5 separate regions of the Homo sapiens genome follow, and regions 2, 3, 4 and 5 are each reported to be linked to region 1. The links are microRNA targets in miRTarBase. Many come from high-throughput screens and were not tested one by one. Region 1 holds a microRNA gene; each other region holds the end of a gene's coding sequence. Distances are from middle to middle.

What was found. Region 1 holds the annotated microRNA hsa-miR-548av-5p (AAAAGUACUUGCGGAUUU, at 2,171-2,188, opposite strand). A microRNA usually pairs through its seed, bases 2 to 8, with sites in the 3' UTR of a target mRNA and lowers its output. Matches are read on the target gene's strand: a 7mer-m8 pairs with bases 2 to 8, a 7mer-A1 pairs with bases 2 to 7 and ends in A, and an 8mer does both.
Region 2: miRTarBase lists ARL13B as a target of hsa-miR-548av-5p. Seed matches in the 3' UTR shown: 7mer-A1 at 1,977-1,983 and 7mer-A1 at 2,750-2,756.
Region 3: miRTarBase lists GALNT7 as a target of hsa-miR-548av-5p. Seed matches in the 3' UTR shown: 8mer at 2,385-2,392 and 7mer-m8 at 2,510-2,516.
Region 4: the mRNA of ZBTB43 is a reported target of hsa-miR-548av-5p. The part of its 3' UTR that is shown has no 7-base or 8-base seed match.
Region 5: the mRNA of ALG9 is a reported target of hsa-miR-548av-5p. Seed matches in the 3' UTR shown: 7mer-A1 at 2,548-2,554.

Annotation. Positions count from the first base shown.
Region 1 is chr11:70,281,630-70,286,173 of GRCh38, reverse strand. It overlaps MIR548K (microRNA 548k), which reads right to left and starts at 2,219; the gene lies at 2,104-2,219. All of the region lies in intron 2 of PPFIA1 (PPFI scaffold protein A1), which reads right to left.
Region 2 is chr3:94,052,660-94,056,659 of GRCh38, forward strand. It overlaps ARL13B (ARF like GTPase 13B), which reads left to right. Exons shown (of 10, transcript NM_001174150.2): 10 at 528-3,019. The coding sequence ends at 604. Among named protein-coding and RNA genes, the nearest start is that of DHFR2, 8.3 kb to the right of the region's middle.
Region 3 is chr4:173,321,104-173,325,103 of GRCh38, forward strand. GALNT7 (polypeptide N-acetylgalactosaminyltransferase 7) reads left to right here. Exons shown (of 12, transcript NM_017423.3): 12 at 477-2,864. The coding sequence ends at 614. Among named protein-coding and RNA genes, the nearest start is that of HMGB2, 11 kb to the right of the region's middle.
Region 4 is chr9:126,833,179-126,837,178 of GRCh38, forward strand. It overlaps ZBTB43 (zinc finger and BTB domain containing 43), which reads left to right. Exons shown (of 3, transcript NM_014007.4): 3 at 1-4,000. The coding sequence ends at 735. Among named protein-coding and RNA genes, the nearest start is that of ZBTB34, 25 kb to the right of the region's middle. RefSeq lists enhancers at 1-29, 30-529.
Region 5 is chr11:111,782,799-111,786,798 of GRCh38, forward strand. ALG9 (ALG9 alpha-1,2-mannosyltransferase) reads right to left here. Exons shown (of 15, transcript NM_024740.2): 15 at 1-3,722. The coding sequence ends at 3,599. Among named protein-coding and RNA genes, the nearest start is that of PPP2R1B, 18 kb to the left of the region's middle.

The sequences.
Region 1 (4,544 bases):
TGAATTTAAGGAGCCCAAAGCCTGCCCAAATGAAAGTACACAGCATGGCAGTCAGGTAAGGCACCTGCGAGGCACAGTGGCCAAGAGTGGAGGAGTACAGTGGGCAGCTGAAACTCCCAAGGAAAACCACCTCCCTAGTTCTGCCTACACAAACATCAACGAAAAGTGGAAAGTGCTCCCACATTACATCATCCATGCATTTAACTTGCTCAAACCGAACTATGTAAGTTTGGTTTTTTCCATTTCTCTTCATACAACGAAAAAAATGTGGGCTAAATAACCCTTTTTACCTATGGAATATTCAGCACCTAGAACGGTGCATGCCACATACAGACACTCAAAATACCTGAATACATTCATGTATACACTATATACATAAACATTATGTATACTGCATGAAAACAGTATGCATTTATGTATATGATAATTAAAAAGTACACATTGTTCTGTGCCTTATGTGATGGGTGATGTTAAGAGGTTTTTTTTTTTTTTTTGAGACAGAGTCTCACTCTGTCCCCCAGGCTGGAGTGCAGTGGTGCGATCACAGCTCATTGCAACCTCCACCTCCCAGGTTCAAGCGATTCTCCTGCCTCAGACTCCCGAGTAGCTGGGATTACAGCTGCGCACCACCACGCCCAGCTAATTTTTGTATTTTTAGTAGAGACAGGGTTTCACCATGTTGGCCAGGCTGGTCTCGAACTCCTGACCTCGTGATCTGCCCATCTCGGCCTCCCATTACAGGCATGAGCCACCGCACCCGGCAAGAGTTTTTAATTTTTGCTCACAGCACTAACTTTATAGCCCAAACCCATGCACTTGAAGTGGCTCTACTCTAACCAGTGGTTTCCACCCTAGGTCCATTCTTCCCTCCATCCCCAGCTCATTATCCACATAGCATGATCTTTTAAAAACTTGGGAGGCCAAGGAGGGAGGATCACCTGAGGTCAGGAGTTCAAGACCAGCCTGGGCAACGTGGTGAAACTCCCGTCTCTACTAAAGATTAGCCGGGCACGGTGGCGGGCGCCTGTAATCCCAGCTACTTGGGAGGCTGAGGCAGGAGAATCGCTTGAACCTGTGAGGCAGAGGTTGCAGTGAGCCGAGATCATGCCAGTGCACTACAGCTTGGGCAACAGTGTAAGACTCCATCTTAAATAAAGAAATACATAAATAAATAAAAATAAATAAATAACAACGCAGCTAAATCACATCATTCCCTCCCCTGAGGCCACGATGCACGCAAAGTACTGAAGCCCTAAGGTACTTAAAACAAAAACAAGCAAGTCTTCACCTCTGTCTGATCCCATCCCAACCTACCTAGCCAACCTTACCATGTTCACTCTTCCCTTCCCTCCAGGCCAAGTAACCATGGCCACAGACCCCAGCTTTGACTCAGCTAAATGCTAAGCTCTCCCTTGCTCTGGCCTTTGCTCAAGTAGCCCCACCGCCAAGAAAGCTCTCATACCTGGTTCCTCTTAGCCTTCATCCCTCAGCTCTAAGCCAATCCCCTCGAAAGCCTCACCTTTCTGGACCACAGTGTGCCTGGCAGCCCACCCCACTCAGTCGAGATCATGGATTTCTTCTGAACCACTTCATTCTATCTGGATGTGTCTCGCAACCTGCACCTGCTTTGAGCATGGGTATATTGTGAAAGTCTTCTGCAGGCAGAGACCCTGTCTCTACCACTGACTGCAGGAGCCTAGAACGGTAATATTCACACAGGGCTCAACAAAATAGGAGGAAGGACTCTGTCTCCTTGCTGACAATTAAAGGTGTAGGAACAGGAAGACAAGATGGCAAATTCAGTGTGTGCAAAAGAGAGATGTAAATGGCCAAATATTATTCTGAAAGGATATATTCAACTATTTCATACACCAAAGACGATGAAAACAAGTATGGTATTTTAAGAGGTGTTTTGCCAACTACTACTAAGAAACAGTCAGTAAAGCAGATGAGGGGGCACCATCTGAAGGGGCAGTCATTAGTATTTATTCTCAGGGAAGAGTCATTTAGCTAGTTTTACCTTATTCCAATTCTTCCTAATTTGTTCACTAAAGTTAAGCTTAGCAAGTACCTTGTTTGCAGCACTCAACAAATTACAGTTGTAGCCAATTTTGCATCATATTAGGTTGAAGCAAAAATAATTGCGGTTTTTGCCATTAAAAGTAAAGCAAAATCCGCAAGTACTTTTGCACCAACCTAACAGCAATACTTGAGAAAAGCTTCTGATTCTTTATACCTAAACCTGGACACTTCCAACATTTGGGGCCAGATAATTCTTTGTTGAGGGGGCTCCACTGCAGAATGTTTAGGAGCATCCCTGCCCTAGCTGTGACAACCACAAATACCTCTCAACACCACCAAACACCAGCGTCTCCTCTTTACTCTCCCCCACCCCCGTCCCCCTTCTCCCCGCAAGCTTGACCCTGGTATCTGCCACTCGGCTGTCATCCTCTAGTCCTACACAATTCCGCCAGGTTGTTCTTTTCTACTGCCCTCTGCCCTCGGATTCTAGCATCCTAGTTTGGGCTGTAACACTTCATGCCCACATTGCAGGAACTGCCTCCTAAATGGGCTGTCTTGCACCCTCTCGCCTCCTCAATCCATCCAGCACACCTTCCACTGCAACCAGCTGAAGCTCACCCATCACTTTGACAGGGAACACCCCTGACACAGGTAGACTTCTTTTTCACTAAGTTTGGATTTGATTTGAAGACCTCATTCCTTAGAATCTTCTGAGTTTTGTACCCCCTGCTTCAGGGATTGGCAGATTGGGAGAGAGACTGGCAAAATTTGGGACCTCACCTGCAATGAAAGGTGAACAGTCTCTCTTCTAGGTTTCACACAAAAGAGTTCTTCAAGCAAGAGGTCTTCTAAAAATCTCATTTGTTGCTTTCAAAAAGACTGTAAAAATCACTGCACTCCAGTTTAAAATAAAATCTCCATTTGAAAATGCAACTGAAACTTTAAAATGAAATTAGAGAGAAGCCCAAAGGCAATATTTGCTTTAAAAAAAAAAAAAAGCACTCGGTCAGTCGGTCAGGCATGATGGCTCATGCCTGTAATCCCAGCACTGTGGGAGGCTGAGGCGGGCAGATCACCTGAGGTCAGAAGTTCAAGACTAGCCTGACCAACATGGTGAAACCCCGTCTCTACTAAAAATACAAAAATCAGCCGGGCATGGTGATGCACGCCTATGGTCCCAGCTACTCAGGAGGCTGAGGCAAGAGAATCGCTTGAACCTGGGACATGGAGGTTGCAGTGAGCTGAGATCGCACCATTGCACTCCAGCCTGGGCGACAAGAGCAAAATTCCTTCTTAAAAAAAAAAAAAAAAAAAAAAAGCCAGGCACGGTGGCTCACGCCTGTAATCCCAGCACTTTGGGAGGCCAAGGCATGCAGTGGATCATGAGGTCAGGAGATCGCGACCATTCTGGCTAACATGGTGAAACCCTGTCTCTACTAAAAATACAAAACAAAAACTAGCTGGATGTAGTGGCGGGCACCTGTAGTCCCAGCTACTGGGGAGGCTGAGGCAGAAGAATGGTGTGAACCCAGGGGGTGGAGCTTGCAGTGAGCCGAGATCACGCCACTGCACTCCAGCCTGGGTGACAGAGCAAGACTCCATCTCAAAAAAAAAAAAAAAAAAAAAAAAAAAATCAGCACTCAAAAAGGAAACATACATGGGATCAAGTCATAGAATAAACATTAGGTAGCTGGGCACACTGGTTCATGCCTGTAGTGGTAGCTACTCAGGAAGCCAAGGCAGAAGGATGGCTTGAGCCCTGGAGTTGGAGATCAGCCTAGGCAACACAGCAAGACCCCATCTCCAAAGTAAGACTAAACACCACGCACACAACCTCTCCTACCTCCCTAGCCTCCTTCTTTGCCACTGCCAGATATGTCATCACAAACCCTCCCTCGGTCTGACACAGGGCATGGGGAAGAGTAGAGACTACAGCAGGGTGGAACAGCCCACACAGTGGCCAAGACGGGAATTGGAGGCCAAGGGCTGTGTCTCCCGCTGGGCAGGCCACTTGCTCTACTGTCTTTAAGTGGTTAAGTGACTGGGCAGGGGCAAATGGGGGATTCTGATTAGAAACTGGACAATGTCATGAGAAGCAGACTGGAAAAAAAAAAAAGAAACTGGACAAGGTAGCCTAAGCGAGGTGAGTGGGTTCTGTATGCTCCCTATCAAGTAATGATAACCAATGTCTCCAGACTCCGCATATGCTGCAGACAGAGAGAGCACGCCCGCTTCAGCTCCAGTTTCAGTGATACGCGGGGTGGCCTGTAGCCCGGCAACCCACCAAAAACTAGAAAAGGTGAGTATGACTTGAAAGTCTGCAGGCATCAAAGAGATGCCAAGGCAGCCACAAATGAAGGGACCAACATTCCAAACCAAAGAGAGGCCCACTGAGGTGAGTCCACTATTCAGAGCCCCCACTCTTTCTGTCAGTGCATTTGACAATTTGGAAGGATTTGGGGGCAGTACACTGATAACTGGGAAGAAAACTCAGCAGAAAGTAGAGGCTACAGAGCTCTAGA
Region 2 (4,000 bases), not on the chromosome of region 1:
GGCTTCATATATGTGGTAAGATGTCTTAACTTGCTATAACTTTTAAAGAAATGCTTTTATTTTTAAAAGGGAAAATGCTATTATATTTGGTGCTTAGAAAAACATTTTTTGTTGCAATGTAAAGTACAAACTTGATAGTGGCTATATTTGGGGTAAGAATCCAAATTTGGGGGCTATTGCAGTAGTCAAAGTAAGAAGTAAGGAATGGAAATTGGATTGGAGAGTATAACATAAGGAAGGAATATTTTAACCATTATAATAAGTAATATGTGATTAATGCATGTGTGGATTGAAGGCAAAAGGAATAGAGTATAATTTGGCTCAACAGGATGGAATGTTGGTGCCATCTCTTAAGATTTAAAATGCACGAGAGAGAAGGAAATCTTTTAGAGAGGCATGTCAAGATTCTGTAAGTTTATCTCTTTGGAAATGTCTAAAATGTCTAAAGTCTAAAAAATAATGAACTGTGTCAAAAATCTTGATGTACCATAACTGTTTTGTGCATTTGGTTTTCTTTCTTTTCTTAGATTTCTATAGGAAGCCACTGCCTCCCCTGGCTGTGCCACAGCGACCTAACAGTGATGCTCATGATGTGATCTCATAAACAAGACGTATGGAGGAGTTCTCTTAATATCAGCAAGGTGAACTGGGACATTCTTCTTTCTCAGAAGAAGAAACATCTTGTAAATTGATGACTGGGGCAAGATAACCATAATAATTTTAGTGAGAAGATTAATACTCAAGGACCTGACTTGATAATTACTTATTTGTGTTTTTCATGGTTAAAAAAATAAAAGAAGCACAATGACCAGTACATGAAATCAGCATTTGGACCAAATTAGCAAGATTTACTGTTGACTCTGGTTTATACATCCCCACTCATGAGCATACTTCTGAAGGAAAACTTTACAAAAAGAGCCAATGGACTCAGCACTTTCTTTACTATTTGTTCAATAGCCTATATTTCTAGATATTAAATATTTTTTGTAAGATATATGCACATAGAAGGGGGACTTCTAGGAATTTATAACCAAAATTTTAAAACTATTTTTATATTTTTTTAAATCTTTAAAAATTTTAATTACTGTGATATTGATTATACACCTTTTTTATAGATGATTTGTTTAAATTATATCTGGAAAATAGAGTTGATTTACTTTCAGACATGAACTATACAAACAGGATATATTTATATGGCTTGAGGTATGTTTTGTAATAGCGTTGTTCTTTAAGTGTACATCGTAATTTGACCTAATTTAAAAATAATATATTTTCGAAGTAGTAGATTCTCAGATCTTTATTCTAACAATTACATGATTTGAAAACAGTACTCAATGAGACTGGAAATACCTTTTGTACCTAAATGTTTTTTAAATTAATCAAAATACATTCTGTGAGATACTATTAAAAGTCTCAGTAAAGTCCTATTTTAAAGGTTAGACACTTTCAGAGATCAAGGTGCTCCCTATACTCCCTTGTTCCATCAGAAGCTGCAGTGACTCTTTTAGGTGATTCTAATTCTTTCATGCCTTGAAATTAAACTATGAAATTAAAGGCAGAAAAACTGGAAAACCTACTGCAGGTCCAGAGACTTCTGTTTTACAACTGGGAAACAGCTTGTGTACTAAAGTAATGAGAATAAAAATGTTGGCCCAAAATTACTTTTATAAATAAATAATTCCAAAATAATTTCTTAATTTAAAATGATAGCACTTCTCTTGCACTTAAGAATGGCATCCATAAGATTCTGTATTTGGCATTTAGACTAACTTCTAGATGTATATTTTTAATAATAGATTCATAATGTTACATTTAATTGAAAACAAACCTTTATATCCAATGAAAATAGTATAAACAGAATGATTTTTATACCACCTTGTTAAGATTGGTGCTTTTGGTAACTTGTACTGACACAACAGACATGTGCTAGTATCTGATAACATTAAGTACATTTTATGTCGTTTAATATAATTATTTACTTTAAAAATTGTACTTCAGAACATCAGATTTTATTCACATTTTTTAACTCACTGAACTTTAATAATCAGGTCACCTGTACTCTAGTCAGCACTGTATATATTCTTGGAGTTTGTACATGGGACTTAGCAACCACACTGAGTGAGGTAAAAGCATTTGATTTCAGATCTAAAATTCGTAACAACCTAAATTTGAGAGGTGGCTGAAATGTGATGAAAAGCAATACGAAAAGACAATGTAAACTTTGAAAAGGATTTTAGAGGGAAAATTGCATAGCTTTTTGTAACATTTACTTAATTTTAAAACTAAACTCATACTTTTGCTATCTTTTTAATATTTATCTCGTTTGGGAGTATACGTGTTTTTAAAATTTGTGTTTTCTATCTGTTTACTATAGTGTAGCTACTGGCTTCATTTAATAAAAATAAATGATTTTGAAATTAAATATAATATAGAATTCACATTTTATATAGCTCTCTCAAAAATTAATTTTTATTCCTTAAGCATTTTAAAAACATTTTAAAAAATGTTTTGTAAATCCAGGTGTATTTTAACAATTAAATGCCTATTTTGTTATATGTTATACTTTTATTCTTAATTCTGAATTTTGACATTTTCACACAATAAAAATAATTTATATCAATATTCTGTTTCTCTTTTCAATTGGTAGATTTAAATGATTTCCTTTGGGTAATAAAATAGGTAAAGATTTTAAAATATGATTATTGAAAAACAGTTTAAATCAGTAGATTAAAATAATGCATTTTTTTGATACTTTACACACAAAACTTTTTTCTCTCTGCAAGTTTTTATGTATGTGGGAAAGAATTTGTGATTTTAAATGCAGCTACAAATAGCATTTCACCATATGATGTTAGAGGATTTGATGTCTGTCTTGCGTTAAAGCTGTTGGTCAACAGATATGTTTTTATGTATTTAAAAGAGGCTCTTGTGTGCCTTTATGTGTAAAATGCATATTACGTAGTATACATGATATTGTATGTAACTGACTTCAAATATAAAACTATGCATAGAAACAACACTAGAAAGAAATGTAGTTTGGCTTACTTTTGTAGTGAGGGAGGCAAATTTATAATATTGTATAAATTATTTAAGTACCATGTTTTCTGCAAGTTTAAAATTAAGTGCTTTTATAAATGCCAGATTAAGACTACAATTCCCTTAATATGTAAAACCTGTGAACATCGTGGAGCAGTTCACCTGCAGAATACAACTAAAGAAATCAAATGCTTCTAGGTAGCAAAAGCTATTCACAAGCTAAATTGTTTATACATATAAAGCTGTAGCTTATAAACTTTATCATCCTTGGCTTTACTTAGTAAATTTTTTTGCTAAGTGGAATATGCTTTGCAACTGAGATTCTGCTAATAATGGTTTATTAATTTATCAGGAAGTATATTCCAACTGATCCAAAGAACAAATTCAAATATTTTAAAATTTTCAATTAAGCATGGCATAGGTTATCAAAATAGCAATAATCCTTTATCTTTACAGAAACAGAATAATAGATACCTGTTTTTTGAGGGGGGAAAAAAAGAAAGCCAGAAATTAACTTCCTTTAATGAAAGAGATCAGCTTATAATTAAATGGAAAATAGGAAAAAAGTTCATTTGCTTGTTGAGGGCTTAACTTGTAAGTTCCTTCTGTGTGCGGATGAGGAAATCATTTACAACCTAGGTAAGTGGATCAGTGGTTTCCAAGTTTTTATTATAATATCTTCTATCAGAAAACATTTTTAATATACATTGATGTTTATGTTATTGTATTAGTTTGCTAGGGTGGCCATAACAAAGTATCACAGACAAGTTGCTTAAACAACAGAAATTTATTTTCTCAGTTCTGGGGACTGGTAGTCTGAGAGCAAGTTGGTGGGTTTGCTTTCTCCTGAGGCCCCTCCTTGCCTGATAGATAGACACTGTCTTGTGTCCCCACGTGGCCTTTTTTCTCCACCCACCCCCACTGTCTCTGTGTGTTCGATTTTCCTCTTTTTATGACTTCTTAT
Region 3 (4,000 bases), not on the chromosome of region 1:
TATTGAAGAAACCTACAGCATATGGTGAGGGCCAAACCAGGGCATCTGCAGTGGCGATGGGAAGGAATATAAACCAGAGACATTGCACATATCCATCCTTAGTGACTGGTATGTGAGTGAATGAGGAAAAGTGCAGTATTTCCTAAGGACTAGAGAGCTGGGAATGTCATTAGCCAGGATAGGAACAAGAGACATAGATTTGGAGGGGCAGATAATGAATTTAGGTTTGTATACATTGAGTGTGAGATACCAGCAGTATATTGTGACTTAACAATGAAAGATCTTAGGACTTAGAAAACTGACAATCAAGAGAAATCCAGAAAACTGACAATCAAGAGAAATCCAAAGTCTGAGGTGTGGTTGAGAAGCTTTTCCATTTCCTTAAACTGTCTCCTCATGAAAGTCAAGTGATGATTTCTGATGTCAGTGATATCAAGGGTCCAAATTTGAAACTTTTTTCTTACTGTGTTTTCCAGAACCTGCACAGATTTACTCATATTCCTTCAGGAAAGTGTTTAGATCGCTCAGAGGTCCTGCATCAAGTATTCATCTCCAATTGTGACTCCAGTAAAACGACTCAAAAATGGGAAATGAATAACATCCATAGTGTTTAGAGAGAAAAAAATAAACCAATAACCTACCTACTGACAAGTAAATTTATACAGGACTGAAAACCGCCTGAAACCTGCTGCAACTATTGTTATTAACTCTGTATAGCTCCAAACCTGGAACCTCCTGATCAGTTTGAAGGACATTGATAAACTGTGATTTTACAATAACATTATCATCTGCAGTTACTGTTTACAAGACTGCTTTTACCTTAAACTTTGTAGATGTTTACATCTTTTTGTTGTGTTTTAAGATGATGTTGGTAATTTGTGCCTTTAGCTCTGTTTTATTAGACAGAGTTAAAGCATGTTGTCTTCTTTGGGATTACACTCAGGGGTCTGAAAGGCAGTTTGATTTTTATTTTTAACACACTTGAAAAAAGGTTGGAGTAGCCAGACTTTCATATATAACTTGGTGATTATCAACCTGTTGTGTCTTTATTTAATTTTACATCTTTTTGAAGCACTGCCACAGGTTATTAGCCAAGGTGGCCTTCCTTCACAGTCATGCTGCTTTTTTGAAAGGTGAATTTCAACACATTTAGTGCCTCTTTCATTTCTCAGTATATATTTCAAGAGCTTGTGATGAAATCTATAGGATGGTAATGATGGACTTGTCACCTGTATGGGGAATACTTTTACTACTCAGAAATGAATTTATGTGCTGCCATTTGCTATAAAGTTGAACTTTGTATGGCTTGAAAAAGAAATGACAATATGGAACATCCCAAGGCTGTCCCATAGGGTTGGAAGTTGTGTAGCATTCACTCCCTTACCTACTGGCATTCCCAGTGCCCTCTGTCCATACCTACTTCTAGGATTGCAAAGGAGTCTTCCAACTAGAGAAAAATTGTCCACTGACATTTGGGATTTACTTTTCTCCAATACCTGCCAATACAGAAAACTATTATCAGTTGTTATTGTTATCCCTTGAAAGCGAGGGTGACAAAAACAACAAAACACCGTTATAAACACATCAAAGGTTCATTCTGACTGAGGTAAGACTTTCCAAGCCCTTGTTAGATTAGGCCTTATAAAACTTGTGTGCATTATAACCTAAGCTGTGCAACCTGTGAAGCCAAGAGTGAACTGATGTTTCATTTATATTTTCATCCAAATGACATTATCTGCACGTTTTTAAAATTTAAAAACAAAGGACTATTTAAAAATACAGTTTATTAACAAACGTGAACTACTTTCTGTTACATTAGGTGTTCCCTAGTGTTTCTTAATTTCTTTTTAGAAAGTGTATTTTTATTAGTATTTTTCCGGTGAACAGAAGATTTGTTTGGATTTAAACATTTACTAAGACAGTACCTATTAGGAAAACCAAATATTGCAAATGGTCAATTCGATTTTAATTTCTCAAAAGATACTCTGTTATCCAGAAGATTAAAATGCCTACATTGAGTGCTTAAAAAAAAAAAAACAACTGTGATGATGTGAGCAGAATGGCAAGTAAGTTAAGCATTTTTGATCCTGTAATCATGGTATCATTACAATGAAAGGAATTCACAAACTACTGCCAGAGGAAGTTTGTTTTTTAATTTAAGAGGGAAATATAACCTATAAATTTGTTTCTTCCAAGCTTAGCTCTTAAATTTGGAGACTCAAAGTTAAACATCCTCAACAGAGTTTTATTTATAATTTTGAATTGTCAATTTGTATTTTGCTACTGATCTGTGATCAACCATTTTAACTTTCATCTCTAGGGATGTTTAACATTTATAATTGCAAAATAAACCAACTATAAAAAAAGAAACTAAGAGAGAATTGGTACTTTAATTACTTGTGTGTTTGCAAATAGGCTCCATTTTCCATGTTGAGTAGATTATAACCTTATTAACTATGCATAGGCCTAAGAAAGGTGGCAATGAACTGTGCATGTAAATTTTAAATGGGTACTTTGTGCAATTCGTTAAAAGAAGATACTCTATGAATATGATTCTATATATTGAAATCAGAAAACCTACCAAACAAAAACATCAGAAGCTGCTGCCATAATGACTATTTTCTACTGTAGGCTGCTTTGGAAATAATTCCCATATCCTTGCTTTGTAAGTTGGTAATATCACTATGCATTTCTACACATTTTATAAATTTGATTTATGCAGATTTTGATACACTGTATGTTTCTGTAGAAATTGTATAAATATTCAAAATTTTATTAGGATAAATTTGAGAAACTTACGTATATCTTAATTCTGGGTTGCTTGTTTTTTAGGTGACAAAAATAAAATATTGTATTTTAATTCATGGGTTTTTTTGGTGCTTGTAATCATTTCAAATCTAAACACTGCACATTTGAAAGAATTACTTGATTTTACTATTTACAAGACACACAATACCTAAAATATTATAGACCATAGTTATTAGTTGAGTATGTGCTTGACTGTTGCTTAGCATTCTGTTACACATGCTTAGAATACTCAGAGCTTATGTATCTGTTGGAAGGAAACAAAGGTTTATTTTTACCTGTTTGCCTATGTATACCAATTTTTTAAGTTTATACTTTTTTTAATTATAAAAAATTACCCCAGCAACATATATCCTTCTTGGCTGTATATAGAATTGCCTTCTTGGCTGTACTATAGAATTGCCTATTAGAAGCAAACATGCCTTCAAATCAAATTTGTTTACAACCTGACAGATCAGGTTAAGTGGAGAAAAATGAAGAGAAGGGAAGCCTACCACAATGAAATTAGAAATAGTCCATAGCACCTTGTACAAAACACATCTCAAGAGAAGATACGGTTGCTAACAGATTCAAGTAAGTGGCTGTATTGATTTGGGAAACTTTCTCTCAACTGACCTGTCTATTGTCATATCTCCCAATTCTTAGCTGCTGTAGAAGTAGGCTAAGAAATTTGAAAAAGTGACAGCACCAGACTAGAATAAATGGGAGTTTCTTTATTTCTTAAGTTTCTCATAGGGATCTTGGAATATATTTCATTTCTGGACATAATTGGGAAAAAAATCCATATATAATTCAATGGAAAACATGACAAGTACCTCACCAGAAAGCCAGATACCTAATAGGCCAATAGTTTAGGTACGTGAAAATTATTCCATGTGAAAGCACTTTAAGAAGTGTTGAGCATTATGAAACTGTGATGTGATAAGTGCATCTTGAAGAATATCTAAGATATTGTATCCTTCAAATTACCTTTAAATGAAATTTCTCTTGGGCTTTTGGTTTGAGCAAATAAACCACAGCTGTATTAAGAATTAACTAACCGAAACAAAACTAAATATTTGAATAGAAAATAGGGATGAATAGACTTCCACTTCCGGCTATAATTTTAAGTGGACTTATCTTGCTACCCCAAACAACAGTTAATGCTGGACAAAATATATGAAGCAACTGTTTTCAGGAATTGGATACTAGTCAA
Region 4 (4,000 bases), not on the chromosome of region 1:
GAGTTCCACTACACCCGGCCCATGTACAGCAAGCCCAGCATCATGGCTCACAAACGCTGGATCCACGTGAAGCCCGAGCGCTTAGAACAGGCTTGCGAGGGCATGGATGTGCACGCGACCTACGACGAGCACCAGGTCACAGAGTCCATCAACACCGTGCAGACAGAGCACACGGTGCAGCCTTCGGGAGTGGAGGAGGACTTCCACATCGGGGAGAAGAAAGTGGAAGCTGAGTTTGATGAACAGGCTGATGAAAGCAATTATGATGAGCAGGTGGATTTCTATGGCTCTTCCATGGAAGAGTTTTCCGGAGAGAGGTCAGATGGGAATCTAATTGGGCACAGACAGGAGGCTGCCCTCGCAGCAGGTTACAGTGAGAATATTGAAATGGTAACAGGGATTAAAGAAGAAGCTTCCCACTTAGGATTCTCAGCCACTGACAAGCTGTATCCTTGTCAGTGTGGGAAAAGTTTCACTCACAAGAGTCAGAGAGATCGGCACATGAGCATGCACCTCGGTCTTCGGCCTTACGGCTGTGGGGTCTGCGGTAAGAAATTCAAAATGAAGCACCATCTCGTGGGCCACATGAAAATTCACACAGGCATAAAGCCGTATGAGTGTAATATCTGTGCAAAGAGGTTTATGTGGAGGGACAGTTTCCACCGGCATGTGACTTCTTGTACTAAGTCCTACGAAGCTGCAAAGGCTGAGCAGAATACAACTGAGGCTAACTAAAAATAGGATCTGGCCCTTGAGTGGCATGCACAAAAATAAACTATGGTAATTAATGCAAATCTGGGCACAGATGATGCGTGCTACTTGCTATTATGAGAGAAGCTTAAAAAAAAAAAGGAAGATATTTCTGAAAGACCAGCTCTAAGTAGGCCAATTAAAAAAATCTAATTCCTCAAATTTGTGTGTTCCAGTCCTGGCCTGGAATGGGTAATGGGGTGAGTTAACCCACCGCCCAGCTGGCAAGGGAAACCTTCTGACTGGTTGTGATCGAAACAGGTGGACAGAGACACCTGCACTTGGAACTGGACTCCACCCACCAGTTCCATTTTGGGTGGCAGCAGCTTTGGATCACTCATTATTACAAGGTCATGCTGAAATTTTATTTTGCTCTTGCTATAGATACTTAGGTAATGTGGATTTGTTTTGGTAGCTATTTCACTGAAGGAAGTGCTACTTATATAAAAGCTAGAAATAATGTGATTCCTAGGATGAGAAATTGGTTAACAGAGCTCTGTTGTCTGGTTTTAGTCTTTCTAAAGGATATTTTAACTAAAACTATGGAGATGCTAAGAGAGTGACTTTCTAAATATGAAACAGATAATTTACGGTACAAGGCTGACATAGTGCCCTTGTCAGTTTCTGTAAGATGCCACTACTGTCACAAGGTGTTTCAGACTCTTGATAAGGCAGTGTTTTGTATTTTAGTTCTAACATTGAGTTTGGACAATTTTATCTAATTGTAATTCTCTAGGGTGCCAGAGATAGGTATTTCTCATTGGTTTGCTTTCCCAAATCCTGTTTGGTTAATTGTAGCCTCCATACAGTGGGGTCTTCTCTGTGGCTGGTAGACACCAAGCTGCTGTGACTGACCACGGTACCACGGGCTGCCACAGCCCCTGCTCTGTCTTAGATTATGGTGCTTTACAAAGAGAGTGGTCCATGACCACACTTAGTGAGAAGGAGCCACAAGTTGTGGCTGAGAGTTCCCTGTGAACTTGAGTAGTTCATAGAGTGCTAAGGTGACACTCCACCAACCAGAGTGAGAGGGCAGATAGGCAGGATTCTATGAGTGGTTATACTTAAGGGGGACAAAACTGCCCAAGAAGAATCTTGAGAATACACTCTTTCAAGGTGGGGGAGATACTCTTTAGAGGGTACACTGAGCTAATACTACCAGTTCTTTATGAGCACTGGAATGTGTTTGTAAAAGGAGTCCTAAGTTTAGCAAGGTAGTCTACAGAACCATGCTCCCACATTATAGATAAAGCTGCTTAAACTTAAAAGTCCACAAAGCTACGCCGACCAGAAAAAAAAAATTAAAAAAACAAACAAGAAAAGCAACTATTCTGAGACCTTTTCTGCCCATCAGTTAGATGATTTAGGTTAAAAAGAAAGGTAATATTGCACATGCTTTTAAGCTGTGTAACATACCTGAGGTTATCACCAGGGTAGGACAGGGTGCTACTACCATGTCATCTTTTCCACAATCGTACTGGGTTATTTACTTCTAAATAGAAACTTTTTTTTCTTAAAATAAAAATAATTTTTCTTGGATTTGGGGTGAAATTTTATTTGAAAAGTTTGGCTTTGCTGTAATGTAATAGACATTGCTGGCAATGGCCTCTGATTCTCAAGCTCCTAACACCAGGGTGTTTACTTGTTGAACATTGTCTGGAAAGAGGAAAGAAAATACTTATTTACCAGTTAACTCTTGTAAGCAAGATTACAAACAGGGATTTATTCACAACACTGTATCATTCTCGATATATAAAAAGCACTTTGTATTTAAAACTTTATTATAAATATATATATATATTGTTTTTTTTTAAACCTAGAAACTAGATATTACCTCTTGGTTGTTTGCCACATTAATAGCTTCTCTTAGTATTGAAACGTTACTGGTTAGCAGTCTTTTCTCTGTGTACCTGACACACGTATACTGAGGGGATTGTACAATCAAGCCTATTGTCTCCTTTTCTTTCACTCATGGTAGAGGCCAGTGGGTTTTAGGTATGATCCTAGCCATTATATTTGAGGAGAAATTGTTCTATTACTCCTACTAATTTCAGTACTAAGGTGGTGATGCCATTTTGTTCTGCCAAAAACTGATCACCCTCTCCCATGGTATTAGCAGAGCATTTTCTGCCTGTTTGGAAGGTTTGATGTCCTGTTTCTCATTGAAGACTATTTACATGATCATTAGGACATTGCAGGAGAAGTCTGAGAGGTAAAAATACAGATATTCTGGGAGAGTCGTGGTCCTTCAGTTCTGCTGAAATCAGCATAGTGCCCTTGTCATGAGGAAGAGTTTCTGTTCAGCCAAGAGTGGTGGCACGCTTGGGTGGTAGTTTTGGAAGCAGTCAGTTGTGCTAGGACTTATTTAATATGTTGTGAAGAGAAGAGTGTCTTCTTGAAAGCCTTATGTGTCCATCAGCTACTAAATGTAGAACTTAAATAAGTTGCTCACATCTGTTCTTTTAGTGTTTTGTGGTATTTGAGGTTTTGGCAAAAATTGGGATTTTTTTATCAGGCAGCCAGAGCCTGGGAGGTGGTAGGGTGTCTGAAATGCTGGCCATGTTCAGAGAGGCAGGAGAAGGGGGTTGCTTTCATTTGAATATTAAAAGTGAATTTTTGTAAACTCTGGTTTTTACCTTTTTTTCATCCCCACGTTGAGTTGGAGGAATAGTCTCTTCTCTTCACCTCAATATAGCTTTAGAAAATCTTTATCCTTCCTAATAAGTTTGGATGGTTGTGGGTAACATTGTTCAAACAATCTTTCAGGGATCACGTCAATGGCCTACAACCAAGCTATTTGTCCCCTACTTTGAGTCTTAACTGTGGTTTTTCTTCAATCCCCATGGGAAAGGGCTTCAAGGCACCACCAGTGGTATTTAATATTCATACTTGGGGCCAGGCATGGTGGCTCACGCCTGTAATCCCAGCACTTTGGGAGGCCGAGATGGGTGGATCACCTGAGGTCAGGAGTTTGTGACCAGCCTGACCAACATAGTGAAACCCCATCTCTACTAAAAATACAAAAATTAGCCAGGCGTGGTGGCGCACACCTGTAATCCCAGCTACTCGGGAGGCGGAGGCAGGAGAATCACTTGAACCTGGGAGGCGGAGGTTGCAGTGAGCCGCGATTGCACCACCACACTCCAGCCTGCGCGACAGATCGAGACTCTGTCTCAAAAAAAAAAAAAAAATTCATACTTATGCCATGCTTTTACCTTTAGATACACACGTTACAGTAATCCACGTGGTG
Region 5 (4,000 bases), 42 Mb from region 1:
CTTTCCTAGAACTCCAAAGTTGGAAAAATGACCCAGATAAATGATTGGGATAAAGACCCATCATGATTTAAAACAAAGGGTCTATTTCCAAACTTGAATTCGGTAATAAAGAGTATGGGCTGCAATTTTCTGTGATTATCTCAAAAAATTAAAATAACCTGTCTTCTTTCTTATCAGATGACACCTACCAGGTAGGAGGTAAATTTTGGTAGCAGATGCCTACCGTGCAGACTGGTTCAGTAATGGTACTCAGCATCACAAGATTTGGGGATTCAGATAAGGCTGCTTTAGAGCTAGAAATCAGAGAACCATGCATTTGCCAAGTATACCTACTCCCTCACTCACCCCATGATCAAAGGCTATTAAAAATTATCTGGGCCGGGTGCGGTGGCTCATGCCTGTAATCCTAGCACTTTAGGAGGCCGAGGCGGGATGATTACAAGGTCAGGAGTTTAAGACCAGCCTGGCCAACATGGTAAAACCCCACCTCTACTAAAAATACAAAAATTAGCTGAGTGCGGTGGTGGTGTGTGCCTGTAATCCCAGCTACTCAGGAGGCTGAAGCAGGAGAATTGCTTGAACCCGGGAGACAGAGGTTGCAGTGAGCTGAGGTCGTGCCATTGTGTTCCAACCTGGGCGACAGAGCAAGACTCTGTCTCGGGGAAAAAAAATAATAATCTGTAGTCCCACATCCCTCTATACTCCACAATCTATGGAGAAATAAGTATCTTGCATGCTTCCTCCTTTTGGCAAGCAGAACAGTCAGTGCAGGCTGAACACTGCTTTTTTGAGGGAGAACTGCTACTCTGAGCAGGTGTGTTGAAACTGTTTTTCCCAGGCAAAGCTATCCTTCCTATACTAAAAAGTGATGGAGATTTTTTAAAATGTGTTTATAAAATATCACATGAAAACACCTTCACAACAAAAAACATTCATTTCTATATTCCTTACCTATAACATTTGGCACAGCGTTCTGCCATGTATTGTGCTCTCACTAAAGACATACATAGAACAGAGAGATCCAAAATCAGGTTTTAAAAGTGATAGGAACTGATATTTCCAAGGAATCCCTGCATCAGTCCTGGCCTTTCTTTGCGCTATATTATAATTAAGGTTTTGTTTTTTTAAAAAAAAAAAAAAACAAGATGACAAAACAGATAAAACAGCATTATACTACTTTGATTAGAAAAAAGCCATTCATCACAGATGGACCTCCATTCCTGGATTCTTATTTACCTCTGGGAAACATAGAGGGCCTTAGCTACTGTGAAGAACAGCACATTATTACTGCAAGTAAGGCAAATGTTTCACTTAAAATTCTCTGTCCTGTAGTCAGATCATATGTGCTAGTTTTACACTGGAAAATAGTAATCAAGAATTGAGAATTAAATGCCAGAGATCTTTCAAGCAAGGGGGAGCCCAGTCTATCCTCACACACTCCCCAGTTATTGTTCTGTACTGTCTAGACCTATTACCTCTCCAGCGCTTCAACTCCGTCTCTGATATTCCTGCAGAGGAGATCTCAAAGAGGAGCTTTTTAATATTGTAACTAGCCATTTCTTCTGTTATCACTTCTTTTCTTCTCTCTTGGCACCAGTTCCTATTAGAATGCCCTTCTCTTTGAAAATGAAAGATGGGGCTGGGTGCGGTGGCTCACGCCTGTAATACCAGCACTTTGGGAGGCTGAGGCGGGTGGATGACCTGAGGTCAGGAGTCCAAGACCAGCCTGGCCAACATGGTGAAACTCCAACTCTACTAAAAATACATAAATTAGCTGGGCATGATGGCGCATGCCTGTAATCCCAGCTACTCGGGTGGCTGAGGCATGAGAATTGCTTCAACCTGGGAGGCAGAGGTTGCAGCGAGCCGAGATCGCGCCACTGCACTCCAGCATGGGCGACAGAATGAGACTCTGTCTCAAAAAAAAAAAGAAAAATGAAAGATGGAACTTCTGAAAAATAGATTCATCCTATTTGCAGATATTCAGATCAGTTACCCTTAGGGAAATAAGGCACCTATAATGTGACCCCAGATTGACTACAGGAATAGTACTGATATTTGGATCCTGTGTGGCTGCAAAAGAACATGACTTCCAAACAGAAGCACTACTTTCCTGCCACAGGTCAGGCTGCATCACACAGCACTGCTGTGCTGGTCTAACACACAGGCAGACTGGAGGCTCCAAAGAACTCAAATACAGACACAATTCTTCCTTAAAATAGAAAGTTACAATATCAGTTAGGTCTCTGGTTAACCTCATCAGTCCTTTCAAGTAATGTTTTCATGGTTGAGTGAGGAATATGGAGGAGCAATAGATGAGAGTAAGGAAACCTGGGTTCCAGTCCCAGCTCTATTACTTACTGGCTGTGTGACCTTAGGCAACTAACTATCTTTACCTCCCCTCACTCCCCACCCGCAGCCTGTTTCCTTATCTGTAAAATGGGGATAAAAATCACCTGCCTTGTCTACCACATGTTGTGACTGTGAGGATCAAACGAGATGCTGTGAAAGTGCCTTGTAAACTGAAGTACTGACTGTAAAGGCTTTTAAAGTAATAGTATACACTTATCACATTTTAATTAGGTCCTTATCATTGCCTATTTGACTAGAAGTGCCCCATGCAGGATGTGCCTCACAACAGACAGAACTAAAAAATAGGTGCTATAAATATACACTGATCCTTTTCACTGGGGGTGGTTAAAAAAAAAGGAAAATTCTTAATTTCCTCAGCAATGGCCTCAGATTACATTACTTAAAAATGTGATGTCATCCAAATGTATCAATTGATAGAATTTTCTCCAAATATGTCCTATACAGTTGTAGTTTTGTCTGTTGATATCTTCACATGGAGGAGTCTAGAATTCAAAAAATAGCATGCTAAAACTGAACAAAAAAGCAATACAACCTTATAGTTACAGTTGGTTGTAAAGGAAATGAAAATTAGAGGCATCATTATAATAAAATTAGGTCACAGTTCCTCAAATGGTCACCTTTTTCCTGAGATAGCTCCAGGACAGGGTCCTAGTCCTGTGAAGTGCTTTAAAGAAGCTTAGTCTTGCTGGAGGTGAAAAGGACATGTGGGTTGGCAACTAGGCTGTGTTCATTTTCAGCATGAGGATTTCAATAAGAAGGTCTGCTAGGAGCTGCCAAACAGCTTTGGTGGAGAAGCCCATATGGCCTAAGAGAGGCTTGCTAGTTCTCAGATGCCAGGCCAGAGTGTGGAGAACAGCTTATCACAGCCATCCAGTACCAGGATTTTCAATTCTTCCTGTAAGTTGGTTCTGCTCTTCTCCGGTCTAGTAAATAATTGAACAGAGGAAAAACAATGAGATGTGGAGCAATATATCTATCTGTGCTTTAGGGCCTTTCTCTGCCTAGCTGCAAAAAGTTTACATGCAGAACAGAGACACACACAGGGAGCAAATGTGACTTTGATTAGACTTTGAAATAGACTTTGACTAGCCCAGAGCACCCAGATTCCAGTATTCATGTCAGAAGACCTTTATTACAAATGTTACAGGCGATGACTTGCAGGGAGTCAGGTCACTGGAATCAATAGTTAACAAGATGGTTGTCCTTTGGGGCCACAGGTGTGTTGCTAACCTCCACTTTTCTTCCTGATTTGCTTTGCTTTCCGGGGTTTGAGGATGGTGTAGTTTACGTACACTGTATACTGATCTGACAGGAAGGGGACATAGAATGCCCGCAGCAGCTTTGAAGATCTGAAAAACAAGGGATAAAAAAAAGAATTTTATCACTTGGGAGAATTTACTAATGGTACTAAATGTGATTAAAATAAATAAACTAATCTGTAGTAAGGATTATATTTTATTCAAGTGGCACAGAAAAGCCTATTATTTCGGTACTAGATCACGATAAAAGACTTAATCAAGGCCGAGTACCTTGTCACCTAAACGAAAATTTATTATTGTCCCTAATAAGCCACAGTATATCCTTCAGAATAGCTCTAGGTCTTCATTTTGCATTAGAATGTGCCATA